Linked DNA regions of Homo sapiens: regions 1 and 2 are each linked to region 3. Evidence: fine-mapped expression QTL. A gene starts in region 3. Each other region holds a variant in brackets. All regions are shown on one strand. Distances are between the middles of the regions.

The links.
Region 1: its variant is fine-mapped to the expression of DEFB1 in lung (TOPMed, PIP above 0.99).
Region 2: its variant is fine-mapped to the expression of DEFB1 in lung (TOPMed, PIP 0.96).

The regions. Positions count from the first base shown.
Region 1 is chr8:6,928,956-6,936,695 of GRCh38, reverse strand. It overlaps DEFA4 (defensin alpha 4), which reads left to right. Exons shown (of 3, transcript NM_001925.3): 3 at 555-876. The coding sequence ends at 676. Among named protein-coding and RNA genes, the nearest start is that of DEFA4, 5.5 kb to the left of the region's middle. The variant A/C (reference allele first, on the strand shown) is at 4,254.
Region 2 is chr8:6,853,681-6,861,420 of GRCh38, reverse strand. No RefSeq gene overlaps it. Among named protein-coding and RNA genes, the nearest start is that of DEFB1, 20 kb to the left of the region's middle. The variant G/T (reference allele first, on the strand shown) is at 3,886.
Region 3 is chr8:6,874,070-6,881,809 of GRCh38, reverse strand. DEFB1 (defensin beta 1) reads left to right here and starts at 3,874. Exons shown (of 2, transcript NM_005218.4): 1 at 3,874-4,013. The coding sequence starts at 3,953.

The DNA.
Region 1 (7,740 bases), 55 kb before region 3:
TCTAGAGAGACGGATGGGAGATGGGCTCTGGAATCACATCTCAATGGTGGATGTCACTTAGGTGGCTTTACTTACCATCTCTGGGCCTCGATTTTCTTATCTCCAAACTGAATAGAGAGACAAACAAATGTAAGTAGTCTTCTTTCTCCAAAGACTTGATTCCAAGGTATGTCTATAAAATTCGCTAGGGTTAAGATACGGAGAGACAGATTGACCAGTTCTTTCTGGATCTAAACAAGTAGATATTATAGGGAAAATATTTCATTCTGCCAACAAAGGAAATTTTAAAAACTGGAGATGGGCTTAAGAGTATGTTCAGGTGTGTGTCTGATGGGGCAAAAGCACACAAATCAGAGCAAAAGAGAATGAGTCTCAAATCCTGTATGAGCAGCATTGCTCTGTGTATTTATTCCTATTGACTAAGGTTGTTTGTGCTACCGGCACTAATGCAGCCAGCATCACCGGTCAGCCAGCATGTGACTTCTCCAAGATTCCCTTTACCACCCACCGCTGACCTTGGTGCTTAATTTCTCATGCTTCCTCTGTGTTCCCAGGCTCAACAAGGGGCATGGTCTGCTCTTGCAGATTAGTATTCTGCCGGCGAACAGAACTTCGTGTTGGGAACTGCCTCATTGGTGGTGTGAGTTTCACATACTGCTGCACGCGTGTCGATTAACGTTCTGCTGTCCAAGAGAATGTCATGCTGGGAACGCCATCATCGGTGGTGTTAGCTTCACATGCTTCTGCAGCTGAGCTTGCAGAATAGAGAAAAATGAGCTCATAATTTGCTTTGAGAGCTACAGGAAATGGTTGTTTCTCCTATACTTTGTCCTTAACATCTTTCTTGATCCTAAATATATATCTCGTAACAAGATGTCTTTGTTTACACCTCTTTAAAATTTGATATGTGTCTGTGTCAAGACACTAGAAAGCAACTGCCAGAATCCTACATGAATATTTTGGAACAAATTAAAGTTTCAAAATCTAGAATTTTTAAGGAGGAGCCATGGCTTCAGACACAAACTGAAACGAAGGCACAAATGATGCCACTGATCTCACCATCCACTGCTCTGTCTTTTCATTCTGCCTCATTTTGAATGGATTCACTCTCAAAGACAACTCTCATATACTAGGCAAAAGAATCAACGTCAGCTTCCAGTTTAGCTACTCACAACCTCACTACTTCTCGGGAAAAACCACCATCCTCTGCGTCAAAATATTGGAGTTTTATTGAACATGTCCAGGTCACACATTTGCCTTTTAAGACATAGGGTTATAGGAGATCCACTGAAACAACTTTAATTAAGAGGGAAATGGGTTGTTAGCAAAGGCGGGGTGCATGGAACACAAAACACAGCAGCCCACAATGGGATGTCCTCATTAAGAGCACCCTTCAGCCACGTCTATGAAGACCTGGATTTCACACCCATAAAGTCGTCTTCACACCCAGAAAACGCACACACACAAATGCTCCACTACACTTTGCAACGCGCACTCTCTTGGGTTGCCTTAAAGCTGCTGAGAACCTGATTCTGCTGGGAAAATACAGCTTCACCAGAAACCTTACATTCCTGTTGTTGCTGCAGGCTGCGGCTCTGATAACCACAACATCCTGCACATCAGTGAGTGAGCAAGAAACCAGGTCTAGGGAAAGGGAATGAACCAGGAGCGCTCTCTGAGATGCTCAGAGCATTTCCCGGAAAGGCCACAGCGTCCCCTGCTGTCCTACCTTCAACTGCAGCCTCCCCATCAGGCACAGCACACGTGGGGTCTGTACCTTCCTGAGCTTGTCTTCCTCCTCCCCTCCAAGAGAACAGGGTCACTGCCTAACCCGGGTGTCCCTGAGGGCCAGGCTGACATCTTGCTGGGGTGTGATGTGACCTCTCTTCCTGTCTCTCCTCTCTGTCCCTACCCTAGAAACCCACTGTACCTTTAACAATAGTTGAGGATGTCTTGTCAACGGCCTATGAGGACATGATCACAAAGCTCCAGGGACAAGTCCAGCTTGGCCCACAGATTTCTTATATTTTGGATCTAGCAGTTCCAGTTTATGAATCCACTACACATGCTTGGAAAAATACCTTCTCTGTTCAAGCCATGGCTCCTCTTATCTGGAGGGTCATTCATAGAATGCCCCCACAACTTCCAAGAGTGACAGAGAAACTACAGTTTGCAAATAAAGGGACAGTGATTCTAGTAGGATTATTCCCCATTCTTGACCAAAACAATCTGATGGGCCAAGACACAGCTGTGACCACCAACACCAACCACCCACAATGCCCAGAGCCCAGGAGAAGGAAGCAGGTGTTCTCCACATCTACCCATGCAGATTCTGAGCAGGTCTCAGCCCCAGACTGAGGCTCTGCCTGTCTGAAGAGGCAGCTCAGGGGTCCAGGCACCCCACTGAGACACTTCACAGCTGGGGAACCCAATACAGGTCCCAGGGAAGACACAGTGGGTCTGTGATTGACAAAGAAATGGTCCAAGGTCTTCCCCTTGTATTGAAGGTGAAGGTGACATTTTGGGTTTCAGGATGTGAAAGGGGGACAGTCTTCCTTGGGTTCCTGTAACCGCCACTGACTTGAAGTCACGCGGTTCTTGCTGTAACTCTGCATATTGCTCCTAACCGTCCACTGAGTCCGGCTGACTCCATCACGCGGTTTCTGCACTTCCCAGAAGTCCACCTGGCTTGCGCCCTAGATCCTGGGGTCTCTGCTAGAACTTCCCTTTGTCACTGAGGACTTTGCTGATTTCTTAATTTCAAATTGCAACTAGTTCCCCCTGGTGACCTCTATCCCCCTCTTCTCTTTATTTTTAACTGTAGAATTGTAAGCTATCTCACATCTGTGCATTTCATTTACTCTCTGGAACATTTGTCTCCCAACACTGGGAGGGAAGCTGCATGTTTTCCTCATCATCTTACCACAGTGCATAGATGACCACCTAATACGTTGCACATGATCAATAAATTAATTTCAACTAAATTAATTAATTGTACTCAAAATTTATATTGACACAAAATTGAACCCCAGGCTGGAAAACTGTGGCATGTTGAGGCAATGTGCTAGAGGGGCAAAACCCCAAATGCCACCTGACTGGATCCAAGCCAGGAAACCCGATCCTTAGATATTGAATGGGACCCATGGCACTAAAGCTTAAACACCAGCAACCCCCACAATCAGAGGCAGGTGGCCTTCCCCATGACCAGGCATGAATACAAACCAGCTAATGATGCCTCAGCACAAACTCAGTCTGTGGCCGGAAAGGTTGGAGCCTCACATGCAGAGAAAGCATTCAAACACGTTCATGGGCTTAGGGATACTTCTGTGCTCCAAAGTATGTGAGTTTACGAAAAAAATACTGAAGCCTACAGAGGTAAAGCAGCCCGTGTGTCTAGTCCATGTGACAACATTCCTTAAAAAAGACTAATTAAAACTAATTAAAAAGACTAAAATATAGGAGACTATGATGGGTAAAATGTGGTTTAATGAAGCATTAGGACTTTTGGAAGTAGGAAAAGACCATTCTGTCATGGAATGCCAAGGATAGATTTCATGGTGAATCTTAAACTGAAACATAAAGATGTTTAAACTTTCAATAGAATAAAAGAATGATTAAAGCAGAAAATTAGGTAGAGAATGTAGAATCAGGGCAAGAGCTATGCAGGAGGAGGTCAACCTCCATTGAATTAAGAGGAATTGCTGTTGCAACACAGAAGGATGGAGTAGAATTCAGGTTGATGTGCTGAGAAGCATCCATCAATCCAAAGGAAAGGGCCAGACGAGGAAGGAGCCTCCCTGCTCCTCTGTGTGGATAGACACACTGGGAGCACCACATGTGGCTTCTGCTACTGCAGTCTAGGGTGGGCTATGACAGCTGCAAACTCTGGGGACAGAGAATGCAGGGAGAGGTGTGAGGGTCTCCAAACAACCAGGGCAAGTTGCTCAGCCTCAAGTGAGACCCAGAAACGTTCATGTGGATGCACTCTATGTTTACTGATGACATACAAGACATTTTCTACCTTGAATCACTTGAGTGGTAGAACAATAAAGAGTAAGTCAGATGCCTCATCCCTATAAATGTAATTACTCAAGGGGATAGCAGCCTTGTCTCTGTGGGAAGACAGGAGCCTATCTCCTAATAAATTAGCAAACAAAGATTGCCCAATCACACTGCTCAACTTCCCCACCAACAACCACCAGAACTTTTCCACTAGCTTAACCCAGGGCCTACATATTCCTGCCTTGGGCTTC[A/C]GGACAGTTGAGTTCAACGGCTCACCCTATTGCAGCGTTTTGACTCTTATTTCAACAGTGTTCAATAAATACTTCCTTGACATTTCTTAAAAGCCTTCTGATTTTTTTTTAATAAAAGACAGCCATTTTTTTCTCTTCTGTTTCTCTGTTTGAGAACTTGAACTCTTCTTACAAGCAGAACCAGAATGGAAGACATCAGACAACTACCTATTCTCTTTTCTAAACCTATGTATTTTTCCCTTTTGCTGCTCAAAGCCACTCAACTCACTCAGAAACTTAAGATTACGGGAAACGGTCTTTCACTGTAATGTTACCTGGCCGGTCACCCTCCCAGCCTCTCAGTGCTTTGTCCGCCTGGATGACAGTGACCCCACTCCCTCTTTGTCCCAGCCCTCCAACCCATGGCCACCCACTAGCTCCTGCCACCACCTGGAATTCCTCCATTTCTGAACATCAACTATGAAGCTCCCCATCCCTGACTCACCCGCTGTCCTTCCAGCCTCTAATGTAGCCGTCCCTCCTTCCCTGCTGATCAGCATCAATAAGGCTGTTCTCCCGGGGGCTGTGCATGGGAATCACCAGGGAGCCTGATACCCAAGCTGCTCTTGGGACACCTGTCATCTGCCCTCAAGCTGCATTGGGACACTTGTCATCTGCTCTCATCTCCTGTCCTTGTGCACGGCACTGTCTTTGCCTCAGGCTCTCCGAGTTTGGTATTTTTGATCTTTTTCAGGCATCTTAGTGGAGTCTTGGAGTAAAACATTAGAAATCAGGTCAAGCTGAGTCACCATTTTTTTTTAAGAGGCAGGGGGCTTGCTATGTTGCTCAAGCTGGTCTCAAACTCCTGGCCTTAAGCAATTCTTCCTCCTCAGCCTCCCAAAGTGCTAGGATTACAAGCTGAGCTACCTTGTCCAGCCCTGAGTCAACATTTTCACTCCCATACCAAGGAATTCTGGCTTTAGGAAATGCTTGGTCCAAGGACTCAAAGCATGAGTTACTTTGTCGTCTTTACCTTTTTTCCCCTTTGTTTCTCTTGATCTTACTTTGGGATCTCTCCCCAGGTGACAGCCATGTCATTCATGGTCATCTCTCTGTGCCCTTCGCAGCTAATCTCCTAGAGAAAATCCCTACTTCTTTCCCTGTTGTTTCAGCCAACTCCTGAGTCCTATGGCCTCTTCTGAGTCTGTTACTGAGGGCAGAGGTTGAGACCCCACCTGGCTCCCACACCACCCCTGCTCCCAGCGGGAAGAATTTAAACTAGGAATGGGTGAGAGGGTTCTTCGGTCACTCCAAACAGTCCACAATCTCATGCTCCCACCATCATGGGCTCTTTGTGACACTTTGGGAATAAGGTAAGAGGATTCAGTCCTACTTCGCCAATATTTTGGAGAAGCAGAAGTTTACACACGCAGAAATGCACAAGTCCAACTTCTCGCCAAGACTGTGACAATGCCCTCTGTTCATCTACTGCTGTGTGGAAAGATATCCCAAACATAGTGGACTGAAACAGCACCATCAGGTCTTCACTCATACCTTGGCAATTTGGGCCTGGCTCAGAGGAGAGGTTCTGCTGGGATCTGAGGAGCTCAGGGCTGAGACACTCGCGCACAGGTGGCAGGCAGTGCTGGCTCAGCTGGGAGCTCTCACAGGGCTGAGGGATGGGACCTTGTGATGCGCTGGGGCCAGATCATGCCGGCTCATGAGAAAGGTGGTTTGTGTGACATTTTTTAAACGGTCCAGAGCTGGGAGGATTCTAACCACAGAAATTTACAAACACTGTAAATCAGAGTTTTGGTTTTTCCCAGAAAGCTGGCTGTTCTGTGTTCTCTAGCTCACCCTCGCAGGTGCCCTCAGTTCATCTTCCTGTGCGAGGCTGAGGCTTCCTCAAAACACGGTGTCTGGGCCCCCAAGTGACCAGCCCTCTTAGTCCGTTTGAGCCACTATTTAAAAAAAAATACCATAAACTGAGTTGCTTATGAACAACAGATATATTTTTCAGTGTTCTAGAGGTTGAGAAGTCCAAATCAAGGTGGCAGCAGATTTGGTGTCTGCTGAGAACCAGCTTTTTCGTTCATAGATGGCACCTCCTCACTGTGTCCTCACCTGATGGAAGGAATGAAGGAGCTCCTTGGGATCTCTTCTATAAGGACACTAATCCTATTCATGAGGTGCCCTCCGGACCTACTCACCTCCCCAGAGGCACCACCTGTTAATGCTATCACCTGGTGGTTTAATATTTCAATATATGAATTTCAGAGGGACAAAAATATTCCAACTGCAGCGCCATCCAAGACGGTGAAAGTGAAAAATACCAGTGTCTTAGCACCTGGGCCCAGCAAACGGCATGGTACTAAGTCAGGTGCATTCTATTGGTGAAGATGTCACCCGACCTAGATCCAACAGGAAAGAAGTAAACCTCCCTTTCTGTGGGAGAAGAGTCCAAGAATTGGGACCACATTTTAAAACAGCCCAAGAGAGTTATTCTTTCATAGTCATTTGTAAAAATTGCTGCAGGCAACAACACCAGACACATAGACAGCATGTGAGAGGCGGCTGGGAAAGGCAGACAAAGGGCAGGGGACTTGGAGCTCCTGCCTGTCCCAGCTGGATCTGCAGGCCCGGGAGTTGCTGTGTGGCACAGGCAGCACCAGGACCCTCCCTGCAGGGAGGTGGACAAAAGGCTGAGGGGAGGGACAGGGCGGTGCACTCTCAGGGGCTGGGAGATGGACAGTTCTCAGAGCTCACCCCCACGCAGCCCCCGCTCTACCCCACGCTAACACACACACTCTGTTCCAAAACTGCCCTTCCACACTGGGTCAAAACCATGTCCCAGGGCCCTGCCCAAGGTCCACACTCACTGTGTCTGCTGGGGTCACCAGACAGCCTCAGAGAGTGTGGGAATATCCTTGCTGCTGCTGAAGGCCTTTCTCCTCTCACACCCACACCTGCACCCCCACCTGTAGCTTCCCCAGGATATTTACCCCAGCTTGAGGGTGTCAAGGCTCTTGTTGAGTGTCTGAAAGCTGAACTGCATGTGTATGAAGGAACAGTTTCAGTTGTGTCTACACTCAGAGTTGACACTGGTGGCAAGTCCAGGACACTGTGCTGGGGGCAGGGTGGGTGGGGGTGGAAGTGAAAGTGTTGCAAAGACTTTTACATGTAGCACCATTTTTTGCTTAAACCACTGATTTCTGCCAAGGTTCTGGTGCAGCCCAGAAAGAAAGGTGAAAGGGACCACGAGATACAGACTCACTCTGTTCTAATTGGGGTTTGGGAGCCACCTGGGGGAGACAGAGGCAAGGCCCAGGTGAGACCTCAGCACAGACTGAGAACCTGACCTGCCCTGGCTGTCGAGTCCCCACCACAGACTGGGAAGGAGGCAGGGACAGGAGCATTGCCACCCAGGAGAAAGAGCAGAGGCCCCCAGACTCAGGTCCTCAGCCCCGCAGCCAGCACAAGGGGGAACGACATCATGACACTAGGTTAG
Region 2 (7,740 bases), 20 kb after region 3:
GTTTCTTCTTCCAAAAACTGCTAATGGTCTCTCAGTCCAATTCCATAGATTTTTAGCAGCTTTCCATTGTTAAAGAATCTCCTTCTTTTTCCTGACGCCCCACTCACTGGCATGGGACATGACGTCAGGCTCATCCTCTCTCCTCCATCACCCCCATCAAAGCCAATATCTTTATCTTTTGAGACCCTTTTACTCAACAAGTGGCCCTGTAATGAGAGGCAGGACCGAAACCGCCTTTGCAAAATTATAACTGAGGAAATTATATCAGTGAAAGATCAGACCTAACAGACCCCCGGACCCCCATCTTCCTTCTAACGTCTAAACTGTCTTTGTTCATTCCCCCACCCCATCTAAACCGAGCTAGCCTTGGGAAGGAATTTAGTTTATAGTTTAAACTCTGAAACAAAATGGATACTAGCCCTTTCCCCCAAAAAAACCCCTTTTTGCCTGGGGACCAGTCTGCCTTCGTAGGACTAACAAATTAGCTACAAAATTAGATATCAGAAAAACTCCTTCTTGCCTGGCGACCAGTCTGCCTTTGTAGGAACAAATTAGCTACACAGTTAGATATCATGATTTAGGGACCATGCAGCCTCTGGCTACAAGAGTCTGGACCTCTCCCAATTGCTCCTGGGAATAACGTCACTATAGTAAAACCTAAGATCAGTGCTTGAAGTATTTTGCAGATCCTATATTCCGGTGCAGCAGATGACACCACCCAGACTGAAAATCTGGCTCAACCAGTTCTGTGATCCCACCCAGGAACAGAAGTCAGCAAAAACTCACTTTGACCCCCTGTCATTTCATCTTCAACCTGACCAGTCAGCACTCCCCACTTTCTGAGTCCATACCTGCTAAATTATCCTTAAAATCTCTGATCCCAAACGCCAGGGAGACTGATTTCAGTAACAACAAAACTCCAGTCTTTGCATGAATTACTTCTTCTCCATTGCAATTCCCCTGTCTTGATAAGTTGGCTCTGTCTAGGCAGCAGGCAGGGTGAACCCATTGGGTAGTTACAGGACAACATGTCAACTAAATGATCTAAGTCCAGCCGCTTTCACAGTGACCCTAGCAGAAACTAACAGATCCTTGAATGCAAGCAGCAGGTGTTTAGACCACCCACCCCGACAGAAACCTCAGCTCTCAGCCCCTCCCTCCCTGCTCCTCCCTGTCCACCTCAGAATAATAGACTCCACACAGTCAGCAATGTCCAGACAAGAGCTGAGCTCAAGTTAGCCTAGTCTAAGGATGCCCTCCAGGCTTGCAAAGAGAAAGAGGACATGATGTGTATTTGGGCTCCACACTGGCAGAGGAGTGGGACATTGCAGGTCCGCAAAGGCTGATGACATCACAAAGACAGAGAGGGCCAAATTTACTAAAAACACAAAGGCCAGTGGGAACGAATTCAAAAGAGAACCTGGGCCGGGCGCGGTGGCTCACGCCTGTGACCCCAGCACTTTGGGAGACCGAGGAGGGAGAATCACTTGAGGTCCGGAGTTTGAGACCAGCCTGGCCAACATAGTGAAACCTTGACTCTACTACAAATACAAAAATTAGCTGGGCATGGTGGTGGGCACCTGTATGCCAGCTACTCAGGAAGCTGAGGTAGGATAATTGCTTCAACCCAGGAGAAAGAGGTTGTGGTGAGTCGGGATCCCGTCATTGTACTCCAGCCTGGGTAACAGAGTGAGATTCCGTCTAAAAAAAAAAAAAAACCAACCAACCAAACAAACAAACGAAAAAACAGAACCTGAAAAGTCTTAATTTGAATGAAGAAATTTGGAGAAATATAATATTGAAAACTAGATGCAATTAGTTAAAATGTTCCAGCATGTAAGGAAAAAGTAATCAAGTCATTTGACAAGGAAAAAAGAGGAGAGAAAATAAAAGGAAAGAGAAGAAAAGAGAAAAGAAAGCAAAGAAAGAGATGGAAGGAAAAACAGAAAGAAAAAGAAGGAAGGAGAAAGAAAGAGGGAAGAAAGAAGGGAGCCAGGAAAAGAAAGAAAAAAGTATGAAGGAAAAAAGAAAAGCTTGAATTTTAGTCTGATCTTTTTGACACTGATTATTCTTTTCTTTTTCTATAGGCATCATCATGATTGGGTATTTGCCAGAACAAAGAAAACAATCACAGAGGACCATAAAAGTCCTTTAAGCTACAGAGTCATAAATCCTGAATTACGAATTCCCCCTGGGCAACCAAGCAACAGAACCACTGACATCCCAGGTCCTGAGGGCTGACCTCTCAGATTACTAAAACTATACCTCTGCATGGAGCATCCTTAACTTTTCCTGCTGTCCTCTTGAACGGCAACTTTTAAAGTTAAGCTCTTAACAAATTTGAATTCTAAATCTGTTCAACAAAATTAAATCATTCCTGTGTTTTTCTGTGAATCTCTTAAAACCCTTTCCTTTTCCTTCTTGCCAGTGAACAGCCCTGTTACCAACTAAATGAGAAAAGACTCTGAAGATGGACATGACGCAGGAGATTGCCGTGCTGTCCATCTGTCCATCTGTAGCTATAGGGGCCCCTCATCCACCCACCGCCCCCACCAGGGAACCTTCACAGGGCACTGTTAAGAGAAAACCACCTCCTTCGCCACTCTTTTTTACACGACATTTTTAAATGAAGTAGTCCTACGTCTCAGATTCCACATTACTTCACCCTACAATTTTGGGTGAGCATCTGCAATTTTTTTTTTTTTTGAGACAGAGTCTTGCTCTATCACCAGGCTAGGGTGCAGTGGCATGATCTCGGCTCACTGTAATCTCTGCCTCCTAGGTTCAAGCGATTCTTCTGCCTCAGCCTCCCAAGTAGCTGGGACTACAGGTGCGCACCACCACACCCAGCTAACTTTTGTATTTTTAGTACAGACCGGGTTTCACCATATTGGCCAGGATGGTCTTCATCTCCTGACCCTGTGATCCGCCCACCTCAGCCTCCCAAAATGCTGGGATTACAGGCATGAGCCACCGCGTCTGGCCTTGCATTTCATTTTTTAATGCAAAACCCACGGGCTTCAGGCACCCGCTCTTTACAGAAAGTTTGGTGGAAGAAGAGCTGGTTTCTGCAGGGTCCAAATCTTCGCTTTCTCAAGGCCGCCTTCTAGTGGCCAGTAAGGGTAGCCTGGGTAATCTGGGCTCCAGGTCTCTTCCCTGGGGCTCCAAGTCAAATCCCTGAATGACTGATTTTCCATTATTTAATTTTCCAAAAAAACAACTCTCTGAATACATTTTTCCCAATGACCTATTGTCCCGCAACTTTAAATTGTGCCTAAGACAAGTCACCAGATTCTTTTAACCTCCAGAGCAAAGAAGGACCAGGGTGAAACAGGGCTGAATGAGGGAGGGGGAAGGGGTGCTGGAGATGGGGAAGGAGGGGAGTAGGGCAGTCCCTGGGATGAAGGTGGAATGGGAGGGGTAGAGGCAGGCACCACAGCAAGATCAGAGGTGGGAATAGCACGGGACCCAGGCAGGCATGAACCTGCCAAAATGCAGATCGCAAACTTCATCTCAGGACAACCTCACACACCTCTATCTATAAAACTGGGCATTTATATTTATTTATATTTTGGAAATGGAGACTCACTCTGTCACCCAGGCTGGAGTGCAGTGGCATGATCTCAGCTCACTGCAACCTCCGCCTTCCAGGTTCAAGCAATTCTCCTGTTTCAGCCTCCCAAGGAGCTGGGATTACAGGTGTGCACCACTGCACTCAGCTAATTTTTGTGTTTTTAGTAGAGATGGGATTTCACTATGTTGGCCAGGCTGGTCTCGAACCCCTCAACTCAAGTGATCTGCCCACCTCGGCCTCCCAAAGTGCTGGGATTATAGGCGTGAGCCACTGCGCCTGGCCAACACTGAGCATTTTTGATGCACCTGGAT[G/T]TGAAATATGAAACAGATATTTGTGACAAATCACAGAAACAAAACTGATATGGTGAAGACACAGAGAAGCTGAGGACTTTGAAAATTCTTACGTCCAGCACACCGGTCATTTGATTAGTCCACTTTTAGCAAATTCACCATTGGGCAGAAGATATGCTTCCAGTGGGGAGGGTTGCAGTGAACTGGCTTTCTGTCATTTCTGCATTCAGACGTACTTACATTTTGTAAAATATATTTGTAAGAATATCTTCCTCCAGTTTTGAACTGGCTTTCACTTCCATTATAGTGTCTTTAGCATAAAAAGGAAGTTCTTGATTTTAACGGAGTAGAACATATCAGACTTTTTCCCATCAGTTCGTAGTTTTCATGACTTCAGAAAAATTCTTTCCTCAGACAGGCGCAGTGGCTCACTTCTGTAATCCCAACACTCTGGGAGGCCGAGGCAGGTGGATCACCTGAGGTCAGGAATTCAAGGCCCGTCTGACCAATACAGTAAAACCCCATCTCCACTAAAAATATAAAATTAGCCGGGCGTGGTGGCTCATGCCTGTAATCCCAGCTACTTGGGAGGCTGAGGCAGGAGAATCGCTTGATTCTGGGAGGCAGAGGTTGCGGTGACCCAAGATTGCACCATTGCACTCCAGCCTGGGCAACAAGAGAGAAATTCCATCTCACCAAAAAAATAAATAAATAAATAAATTCTTTCCTACTTGAGGTAATCATGATCGCACACTACTTTACTCAAATTAACTTAAATTTCTGCCTTCACAAACAAATCCTAAATCCATCTGGGCTTATTTTTCTCTGTGATTTTTATTTTCCTTGTATATGTATTCATAATTTTTCTATTATAAAAAATGGATGCTATTGTAATTGAAAATGAAAAAATTCCAACAAATCAATTATGTCGTAATAGTTGCATAAGTCTTCTGAATATTAGTACAAAACAATGTATTTTTGCCTCAAAGTTTTTTGCATTATTTTCAAGGTTTTGAAAAGTGAGATAGAGATTTTTTAAATTGTAGTGTCAGGAAGTAAAACATCACCAGCTTTCCACAAACATGTGTTAAGTGTCTAGTATATCCCAGGAAGTGAACTCCACCGAATGTCAAGGACGTGAAGGATTTAAAATATTTTTAAAAATTGCTTTCCTTAAAGAATTCACCTGCTAATGTGAGCTGTCACATTCCAAAGGTAATTACAAATTGTAATATGATACAGAACATACAAAGATAAAGACGTTATCAATGTCTTTCGCAAGCACGGGGAATGTAACTGTCACAAAGTGGGAAAGACCTAGAGGATCAGAGAAGGCGTTCTTTAACTGACTGGGAGTCAGGCCTGTTGGACAAGGGAAAAGTAGGGATCAGCAAACAGTCCAGGAGCTGAGGCATGAGCAAGAACAGTTTGATGGTGCCTCATTGGAAAGTGTTAGCAAGAGAGCTGATGGCTGAGTTGAGCTAAGATTAAATAATCTGTGCAGCATGACCTTGCACAATTTAACAATGTTGGGCCTTTTCCTGTAGGTGAGAGCTGTTCAAATGCTCTGCAACATGCTTCACCTGCGTGGGCAAATGAGAACAAAAGCCCCACTGGTGCCAAAGGGGCTACCTGCTGGATGTTCAAAATACCTTCAAAGCCGCATCTTATCAGGCAAAGGCATGTGTCCCTTCCATTCTATTCCATTCCATTGCATTGCAAGGTAATCATTTTTGAATCCTGAGAGGAAAAACAATGCTCCAGGAAGGTAGACCATGTTTGCCTGTTGCTGTCAAAGCTCCAGCAGACAGCTCCTGACCTTTGGTGGGGGCACAGCCTGGGAGATGAGGAGCCTCAGAAAACTTTGGGTCCTTGAAGAGGTGACACAGTCAGACATGAAATTCAGATACATTATGCTATGGCATGAATTGTGTCCCCAGGAAAAGAGACATTCAAGTCCTAACTCCAGCCACTCAGAGTGTGACTTTATTTGGCAATAGGGTCTTTGCATAGATAATCAACCTGTAATGGAGTCATTTGGGAGGCCCTAATCCAATAGGACCGGTGTCCTTATATAAAGGAGAAATTGGACCCAGAGAGAGGGGCATACAGAGAGAGGACGACGTGAAGACATACAGGGCCGTGTGACTGGACATGATGCCTCTACAAGCCAGGGAAGGCAGGGATTGCCAGCCATTAACAGAAGCTGGAAGAGGCAAGATGGGATCCTCTCTCAGCATTGTGAGATGGAGCATGGCCCGGCCAACACCAGATTTCAGACTTGTGACCTCCAGAACAATGTGAGGCAGTACAATTTTGTGGTTTTGAGCCACCCAGTTTCTCATACTTTGTTACAGCAGCCCGAGGACACTAATCCTAGAGGGATCCCTTTAATAGCTGGGTGGAGTACAGATGTGAGGTCCAAAGGCAATTCTGGAGGTGGGGAGCCCATGTGGGAGCCTCTTGTATTGATCCTGGGAGAAACAATGGAAGCCAGACCTAAGATACTAAGAACAGAGAGGAGGACAAAGATTCGAGAAACATTTAGGAGGTAAAAACAGGCAAGGTAAACTTGCTTCGGTGAGTTGTGTGAGGTCAAAGACAAAGACGGCCTCGAAGATCTCCTCCTGCAGTCTGGAAGTCCCATAGGACCAAGAGCAGTTTTCAAGGTGGCGGGAAAAGGTGAAGCCTGCAGTATAGATATGAAGCCCCTGCAGCTCTTAGAGATTCCCGCACATCCAAAATCCCAGGTGTCTGTACTGATCGCCTTTTGCTGCAAGAACAAACGTCCCCAAATCTCAGATTCTGGAAGTCACAAACATTCATGTCGCCATTCACAGTTGGCTCTGTGGCCTCTGCAGCCGGCTCTGGACTGGGCTCAGGGCTGCTCTGTGTGTGGCCCTGTCGGGGACAAATGCTCAGTGAACAGGGGCTGCCTATGACACGCTCTCCCCATGGGAGCTGAGGGCTGAAGGCTGTGGGCTGAGACACATGCTGCCCTTTCTGGAACAGGCACGCAGCCACTGCTTCCTGCTGGTGGACACAAGGCACACTGTCAGGCCCTGTGTCGGCGGGTCAGGGAGTACAGTTTACCTGCTGAGAGCCACTGCCAAGCCACGGCTGAGGGAAGGCATGTTGGAGCAGTGGATTCGCCGTATCTCTTGTTGTCTGAATTCTCATGCCTTGATATCTGGGGACTTGCCCCCTCAGAGTCAGCCAATTCTTAGAGATAGTAGGCAACTCTCCCAGGAGCACCCCTTTCAAATGCAAACCAACCAATCAAAAGTCCACACCCCCAGTTGCCCTCTTCGGGAGGCTCTCATGCTCTGGTCTCTATCCACCAGCCCTTATCTACCCTGGGCCAGGTACCAGACGACTAGGGACACCCTCTGTGCCCCAGAACTGCTGAAATTATTCATACTAGCAAATCCCAAACCTGCTTGCCCTGTCTTCTCATTTCTTCCCATGGAAATCACAAGAAAGGCTCTCGCCCACAGTTCCTTTTGTCTCCATCTACTTCCTAACCCCAGGCTTCCCCATGTGGCCCCCCTGCTCTGTGTGCCCCTCCTGCGATCTGTGGGTCTAACAAACTCCCTTTTCAATGGCACCGTGTCCTGATCCGTTGGCCTCACTGTATTTCTGGTGCTATATTTTAAAGCCAGCAAAACTCTGATTCTATCACAGCATCCTAAAATTTCATATCCTCTTGACACACCAAAAACTCAAATCTAGGAGATGACAGAAGCCTCATTGAACCCAGGTGCCGTATCTGCAGAATGGAAAATTCAGCAGAAGTATCTAGGGCCTACAAAAGGAAAATATATCTTGGGGTCCCCCAACAAATCACTAAGCTAAAGGGAAAGGTCCGGCTGGGAA
Region 3 (7,740 bases):
CCATCAGTCTCCTTAGTCAGCGCCCACCCACAAAGGCCACACTTTGGTCAATTGTGAGTGATGAAGCCAGGACTCTGGCCAGTCTCACTGCAATATTTATGTGAAAGTAGATGCTGCATTCTGCTTGTATGTGGTTTCTCCTGGGCACATGGCACAGGACCTGGCCTCCTTATCATCTCGCCCGGGCTCCCATGCCTTCCGAGCTGGCTACCACGCCTCACTCCTCAAGAGCGCCCAGGAGTGAGCTCTGCTCTCCAGCATCACCCTGTTGATGGACGTGAGCGGAACAGGGTGATGCCCTGGACACTGGGACTAAAATGACCTTCTTCTAGCACCCTCACAGGATGCTTGAAATCCTGAAAATGTAACCTTAAAAAGCAAAGTGTTTCTTCTCAAAAGAAGACATGTATGCAGCCAAGAGACACATGAAAAAATGCTCATCATCCCTGGCCATCAGAGGAATGCAAATCAAAACCACAATGAGATACCATCTCCCACCAGTTAGAATGGCGATCATTAAAAAGTCAGGAAACAGCAGGTGCTGGAGAGGATGTGAGGAAATAGGAACACTTTTACACTGTTGGTGGGACTGTAAACTAGTTCAACCATTGTGGAAGTCGGTGTGGCGATTCCTCAGGGATCTAGAACTAGAAATGCCATTTGACCCAGCCATCCCATTACTGGGTATATACCCAAAGGACTATAAATCATGCTGCTATAAAGACACATGCACACGTATGTTACTGCAGCACTTTCACAATTGCAAAGACTTGGAACCAACCCAAATGTCCATCAATGATAGACTGGATTAAGAAAAATGTGACACATATACACCATGGACTACTATGCAGCCATGAAAAAGGATGAGCTCATGTCCTTTGCAGCAACATGGATGAAGCTGGAAACCACCATTCTGAGCAAACTATCACAAGGACAAAAAACCAAACACCGCATGTTCTCACTCATAGGTGTGAATTGAACAATGAGAACACATGGACATAGGGTGGGTAACATCACACACCGGGGCCTGTTGTGGGGTAGGGGGAGGGGAGACAGATAGCATTAGGAGAAATACCTAATGTAAATGATGAGCTAATGGGTGCAGCAAACCAACACAGCACATGTATAAATATGTAACAAACCTGTACGTTGTGCACATGTACCCTAGAACTTCAAGTATAATAAAAAAATAAATAAAATAAATAAAAAATAAAAATAAAATTTAGAAAAAAAGTTTTCCAGGTTCAGAGCAGAAAACATCAGTCCTGAAAATCAGGATTCCAGGGTTTAGATTCCTTTCACTCCCAGGATCTACAGACACCATCGGACCTCACATGGTGCCCGGCAGCATTCTGAGATTTTTTACTTTATTATCTTGTAAACCCCCAAAATTTGAGACAGGTCTCATTTAATTTAAAAAGTTTATTTTGCCAAGGTTGAGGATGTACCTCTGACATAGCCTCAGGAAATCCTAACAACATGTGCTCCAGGTGGTCAAGGCACAGCTTGCTTTTATACATTTTAGGGAGACATGAGACATCAATCAATGTATAAGAAGTACAATAGTTCTGTCCAGAAAGGCAGAGACAGCTCAAAGCAAGGCCCCCACCACTGGGGGCTTCCAGGTCACAGGTATGTGAGAGACAGACAGTTGCATTCTTTTTATTGTATTTTTGAGACGGAGTGCGGTTTTGTCACCCAGGTTGAAGTGCAGTGGTGCGATCTCGGCTCACTACAACCAATGTGTCCTGGTTTCAAGCAATTCTCCGGCCTCCGCCTTTTGAGTAGGTGGGATTACAGGTGTGTGCCACCACACCCAGCTAATTTTTGTATTTTTAGTAAGGACGGGGCTTCACCATGTTGGCCAGGCTGGTCTCGAACTCCTAACCTCAGGCGATCTGCCCGCCTCGGCCTCCCAGAGTGTTAGGATTACAGACGTGAGCCACTGCGCCCTGACCGGTTGCATTCTTTTGAATTTATTATAAGTCTTTCCAAAAAAGTTAATCGAAATACGCATGTATCTCTGGGAGCAAAAAGATGACTTGAATAGAAAAAGAGGCAGATTCGCAATAAGCAGTTCCCAGCTTGAAGGTGCCTGAGATATTTTTCTTTCACAATCTTATTGAACCCACACCTGGTGTAATAACCTGGAAGCCTCCCCAGGAGGCGGTCAGCACAGAGGCTAGGGAATGAGGCTTTCCAGGCCATTACACCAGTTTTCCATTTACCAGCAGGGTGACCTTGGGCAATTTGTTTCAATTCTCTGAACCCCAGTGTTTTTCTTCTCTAACATGAGGATTATATTGCCTGGTCAAAGAATCATAGTGTGGCTTCAATAAGACAGAAGGAAAGGGACAGAAACAGATCCGATAGAATACTGTAGCTAGCTCATTGAGGCAGTTCACAGACGGTGTTTGGGAGGAACTTGGAAGAGGCTGAGCCATGTCTTACCCAGCACCAGCAAGGAAAGCTGTGTTTCGGTTCTTTCTTTTCTCTTTCCACAATCTCACTGCTCCTAGGTCAGGCATGGCTCAGCCTCTTCCAAGTTTTCTCCCAAACACCCTTTGTGAACTGCCTCAATGAGCTAGCTACAGGATCCCACTGCATCTTTCTGTCTCCTTCTTTCTGTCTCTCTGAATCTATTTCTCTCTATCTCTCTCTCTCTCTCTATTTCCATCTCTCTCTGTCTGTTTCTATCTCTCTGTTTCTCTGTGTCTCTCTACTGTCTCTCTGCATGTCTCTGTCTCTTCCTCTGTCTCTGTTTTTGTTTGTCCATCTTTCTGGATCTCTCTCTGTCTTTCTCTGGCAGGGTTGAAGTGGGAGTATACGGCAGGTTCATGTTTGGGTGCAGAATGGCATTCTGCCAGCGGTAGAGTGGCTGAGGGTCACTCCACTCTGGGTGTCTCATGCCATGTGGCTGCAGTATGGGGTTCTCATTGGACCACCGTGACAGTGTAGGGTGGATGTCATTCCTGGAAACTGAGCCTCAAGCTGGGTTCTCCAGCAATGCCACCACCCCCCACCAACCCTGATATCCTCCGAATAAACTCTTCCCTTCCTTGGTCAGCGAGAGCCAGCGTCTGCTGCTTGCAAATAAGCCACTGAGACATCAGGAAAGCTGCTCACAGAATTACAATGAAAATCAGTAATAAATAAAATGTTTCTTAAATCTTTAGAATCAAGGAAAACCTGAGGGATACTTGGAGAGTCGCTAACAGCACCCCAATCTGGCAGTTGTAGCTCTGCAGGGTGGGCCCAGGCTGGCCCAGACCCTCACCCTCCAAGGGCCACACTGGGGGCTCACTTTCTGAGGAGTGCCCTTTGGAAACGTCCCAGGAACACGTCTAGTGGGAAAAGAGAAAAGTTGGTCCATCGAGGAGAGTGTTCTGCATAAGGGGAGAGATGAGAAGGTAGCCTTGGCCAGAGGAAGAAACTTCATTACAACCAGCTCTCCTTCTGCAAGGGAAGAGGGTGAAGTTTGAGTTTGTCTTGCAGGAAGACAATCAAACTAAAGAGGCCAACACCAGCTTAGAGCCGAGCGGCCCCCTGCTCAGAGCTTCCCTGTGGCTCTCCTCCATGTGATCCAGAAGGAGGGACTCCAGTGTGAACTGCCTGTTCCAGAAACCCCATCAGAACTGCCTAACCTAGAAAACCAAACAGGAGGAGCTGGCACCAGGGCTCCAGGCTGAAAGCTAAATCCAGCGGCAGCCAGATGGAGACAATGTGCCATGTGACTGCTGACTGCTCAGGGCAAATGACACCAGGGGTTAGCGATTAGAAGTTCACCCTTGACTGTGGCACCTCCCTTCAGTTCCGTCGACGAGGTTGTGCAATCCACCAGTCTTATAAATACAGTGACGCTCCAGCCTCTGGAAGCCTCTGTCAGCTCAGCCTCCAAAGGAGCCAGCGTCTCCCCAGTTCCTGAAATCCTGGGTGTTGCCTGCCAGTCGCCATGAGAACTTCCTACCTTCTGCTGTTTACTCTCTGCTTACTTTTGTCTGAGATGGCCTCAGGTAAGCTCTGGTACCTGCAAGAGTTTCCCATCCCCAGGGCTGGGGACAATGGGGCTGATGTGAGTCTCGGATGGCTGCCTCCGTGTCCCAAGGGACGAGGAACAAGCAGCAGGAAAGCATCCCGTGGTTGAGTGGCCTGCAGTTGGCAGAAGGCAGCAGGCAAGCCCTGCCAAGCCTTCAGGGTCTGTGAGCCGCCAAGGAGTGAGCCTGGCAGGGTCATGGCGCTTGTCACAGGCAGCTGCCTGCATCCTTGTCCTGGACATGTAGACAGTATCCTATGTGGATGAGATTGCTGCTTCCCCTGCAAGACGACTCCTCACACTGAGAGGCCAGCTTCCTATGCAGAGAGAGGGGCCGGCCCCATCCTCAGCCCACGTCACTGGGTGCAGCCTCCTGGGGTGCCCTGGTACAGGTGAGGTGCTGCCGCCCCACCCATCAGGCCAGCTCAGCCGGTGCCTTGGACTCACCTCCTGTGCAGGCAGGCGGTCCTCTCCCTCTCCTGAGAAATGCATCCACATTCTCCAGGTTAGCAGTCTCCCCAGTCAATAGGAGGGGGCTTCCTGTGAGCCAGGTGTATGTCAGCTTCTCTGGGCCAAAGCAGCCATGACCCTGACATGATGGTGGGACGTGCAGGAGGAATCGGGAACATGTTTTATCCCAGCCCTATCCTTGTTCACACGAGTCACATGGTGCTAAGCCTTGGTTTATTCATCTGCAGAATGAGGGGCTGGGAAGGATGATCCTGAAAGCAAGCACTCCAGTTCAGAAAGTCTCTGTAAGATCCTATTGTAAGTTTCTCTAGGCCATCACTGTATCCAGCAGATAGGCTTAATTTATTCCAATTATGCCTCAGTTTTTCCATCTGAAAGCTGAGTACAAAAGCATTCTAAATGCAGAACTTTTCATGCTGCCAGTTGCTACAATGGATTTTGTTTTTTTGTTTTTTTTTTTGGTTTTTGGTTTTTGGTTTTTGTTTTTGCTTTGCTTTTTTTTTGAGACAGGGTCTCACTCTGTCACCCAGGCTAAAGTGCAGTGGTGTGATCTCGCCTCACTGCAGCCTCTGCCTCCTGAGCTCAGGCCATCCTCCCACCTCAGCCTCCCAAGAAACTGTGACTACAGGCATGCACCACCACACCTGGCTAATTTTTTTATTTTTATTTTTTCGTAGAGATAAGGTCTTACTGTGTTGACCAGGCTGGTCTCAAACTCCTGGGCACAAGCAACCCTCCTAGTTCAGACTCCCAAAGTTCTGGGATTATAGGCATGAGCCACTCCACTCAGCCTACCGTGTTTTTTTGTTTTGTTTTGTTTTGTTTTTTTGAGATGGAGTCTTGCTCTGTCACCCAGGCTGGAGTGCAATGGCACAATCTCAGCTCACTGCAACCTCCACCTCCTGGGTTCAAGCAATTCTCCTGCCTCAGCCTCCTGAGTTAGCTGGGATTACAGGTGCATGCCACCAAGCCTGGCTAATTTTTGTATTTTTTAGTACAGACGGGGTTTCACCATGCTGGTCATGCTGGTCTTTAACTCCTGACCTCATGGTCCGCCTGCCTCCGCCTCCCAAAGTGCTGGGATTACAGCCATGAGCCACCACGCCCAGCCCATGTTTTTTTAAAGGAATAGAAAATATTACTTCATGCCATGTAGTAAAAGTAGATGCTATTTAATTACACCCATATTTCAGTTTGGGGTGTGTGCATATGTTTTTACTGAGTAGCAGTGAGAAATTTCTTTCTGATGGTGGTTCAGTCCAAACTCAAAAGGGTTTGAAAGGCACTTTGTTAACATAAAGAATTTTTGTTTTCAGTCTATTATATCTAAATTGAATTATGAGAAGCTATTCTCGAGCCTTCCCAGTCACAACTCCCTCCTACCCCCAAGAATAATCACTCACTTGACTTTTATGGTGGTAACTTTTCATATTCTTTACACTTTTGCCACACTAATTAATATTCAGGTTGAATAGTACAGCTTGGTTTGTGCACACATTTCTATTGGCCAGTAGGTGCCCTTATGCCTCTATTTCTACATGCTGAAAAGTTGCATCACCGGATCATAGGCTATGCATATATTCAATTGTATTGGACAATGCCAAACTGTTTTCCAAGATTATTTACACCAACTTGCACTCCCACAAGCAGTGAATAAGAGTTCCTCTTGCTCTGTATCCTTGCCAACATTTGATAACATCAATTATTTTTAAATTTTAACCACCTGGTGAGTGTAGCAATAGCTCACTGGAGTTTTAATCTGCATTTCCCTGATAAATAATAAGTTGGGCCCTTTTATACATAGTTACAGGCAACTGGGTTATTTTTTGTAAAATACCTGTTTGTCTTTTGTCCATGTTTTCTTTTGGATTATCTGTCTTTTCTTATTGGTTTGTAGTTCTTTATGTATTTTCTATGCAAGCCTTTTGTCAATTATATACATCACAAATATCTTCTCTTGCTTTGTGTTTTGATTTTTCACTCTCTTAATGGAAACTTTCCTAGAAAAGAGGCTTTTATCATGATTTCAATGTAGTCGAATGTGTCATGTCTTTTTCCGTAAGGTTACTGCACTTTCTATCTTGTTTAAGAAGACTTTCTTTACATCAAAGACATGAAGATAGTCCCCAATATTGTCTTCTAAAAGCTTATCCTTTTTCTTTTTACATTTAGACTTACAATCCATCTGGCAATGGGGTGTGTGTGTGTGTGTGTGTGTGTGTGTGTGTGTGTGTGTGTGTGGCTTCGGTATGAAGTAACGGTCAAGTTACTTTTTTTCCCCAATATGAATATCTGATTGTCCAGAACCAACTTTTTTTTTTTTTGAGACTGAGTCTCGCTCTGTCACCCAGGCTGTAGTGCAGTGGCACAATCTTGGCTAACCGCAACCCCTCCCTCCCAGGTTCAAGGGATTCTCCTGCCTCAGCCTCCCGAGTGGCTGGGATTACAGGCGCCTGTCACCACACCTGGCTAATTTTTGTATTTTTAGTAGAGAGCAGGTTTCACCATGTTGGCCAGGCTGGTCTCAAATACCTGACCTCAAGTTATCTGCCTGCCTCTGCCTCACAAAGTGCTGGGATTACAGCCATGAGCCACCATGCCCAGCCCAGAACCAACTGTTGATAAGACTATTTTTCCCCACTGTTCTGCTGAGCCACTACTATTCTACATCAATTCTCCATGTATGCATGAGCCTCTTTCTACACTCTATCTTATTCCATTTGGACATTTTTCTGTCCTTGTGCCATAAGCACATTGCCTTAATTACAGACGCTCTACACTTAGTCTTGAAATACAGTAAAGCAAGACCTCTCACCTTTTTTCCAAATGTGTCTTGGCTATTCTCGGCCCTTTGAATTTCCAAATAAAATTTAGAATCACTTTGTCAAATTAGAACCTCTGGGGATTCCCATGGTATTTGGTTGAACCAGAAGATTAATTTTTTTTAAAAAAGTAATCTTCAAATGCTTTAACAGAGCATTTCCACTCATTTAGGTCTTCTTCATTTCAAAATGTTTCAGGCCTTCATAATAACTTTTTTTATGTTAGTAGGATGTGATGTTCCTGCTTTTGTTTCGGTCTTTCTCTCAAATCTTGACCTAGTAATTCTTTACTGTTGGTTCTCTAATACCTACAAAGTGCACATGTGCGTGTGTGTGCGTGTGTGTGTGTGTGTGTGTGTGTGTGTATGTCAGATATTCTAGCTGTTCTTTTTGGGCTGCCTGGTCCACAATTAT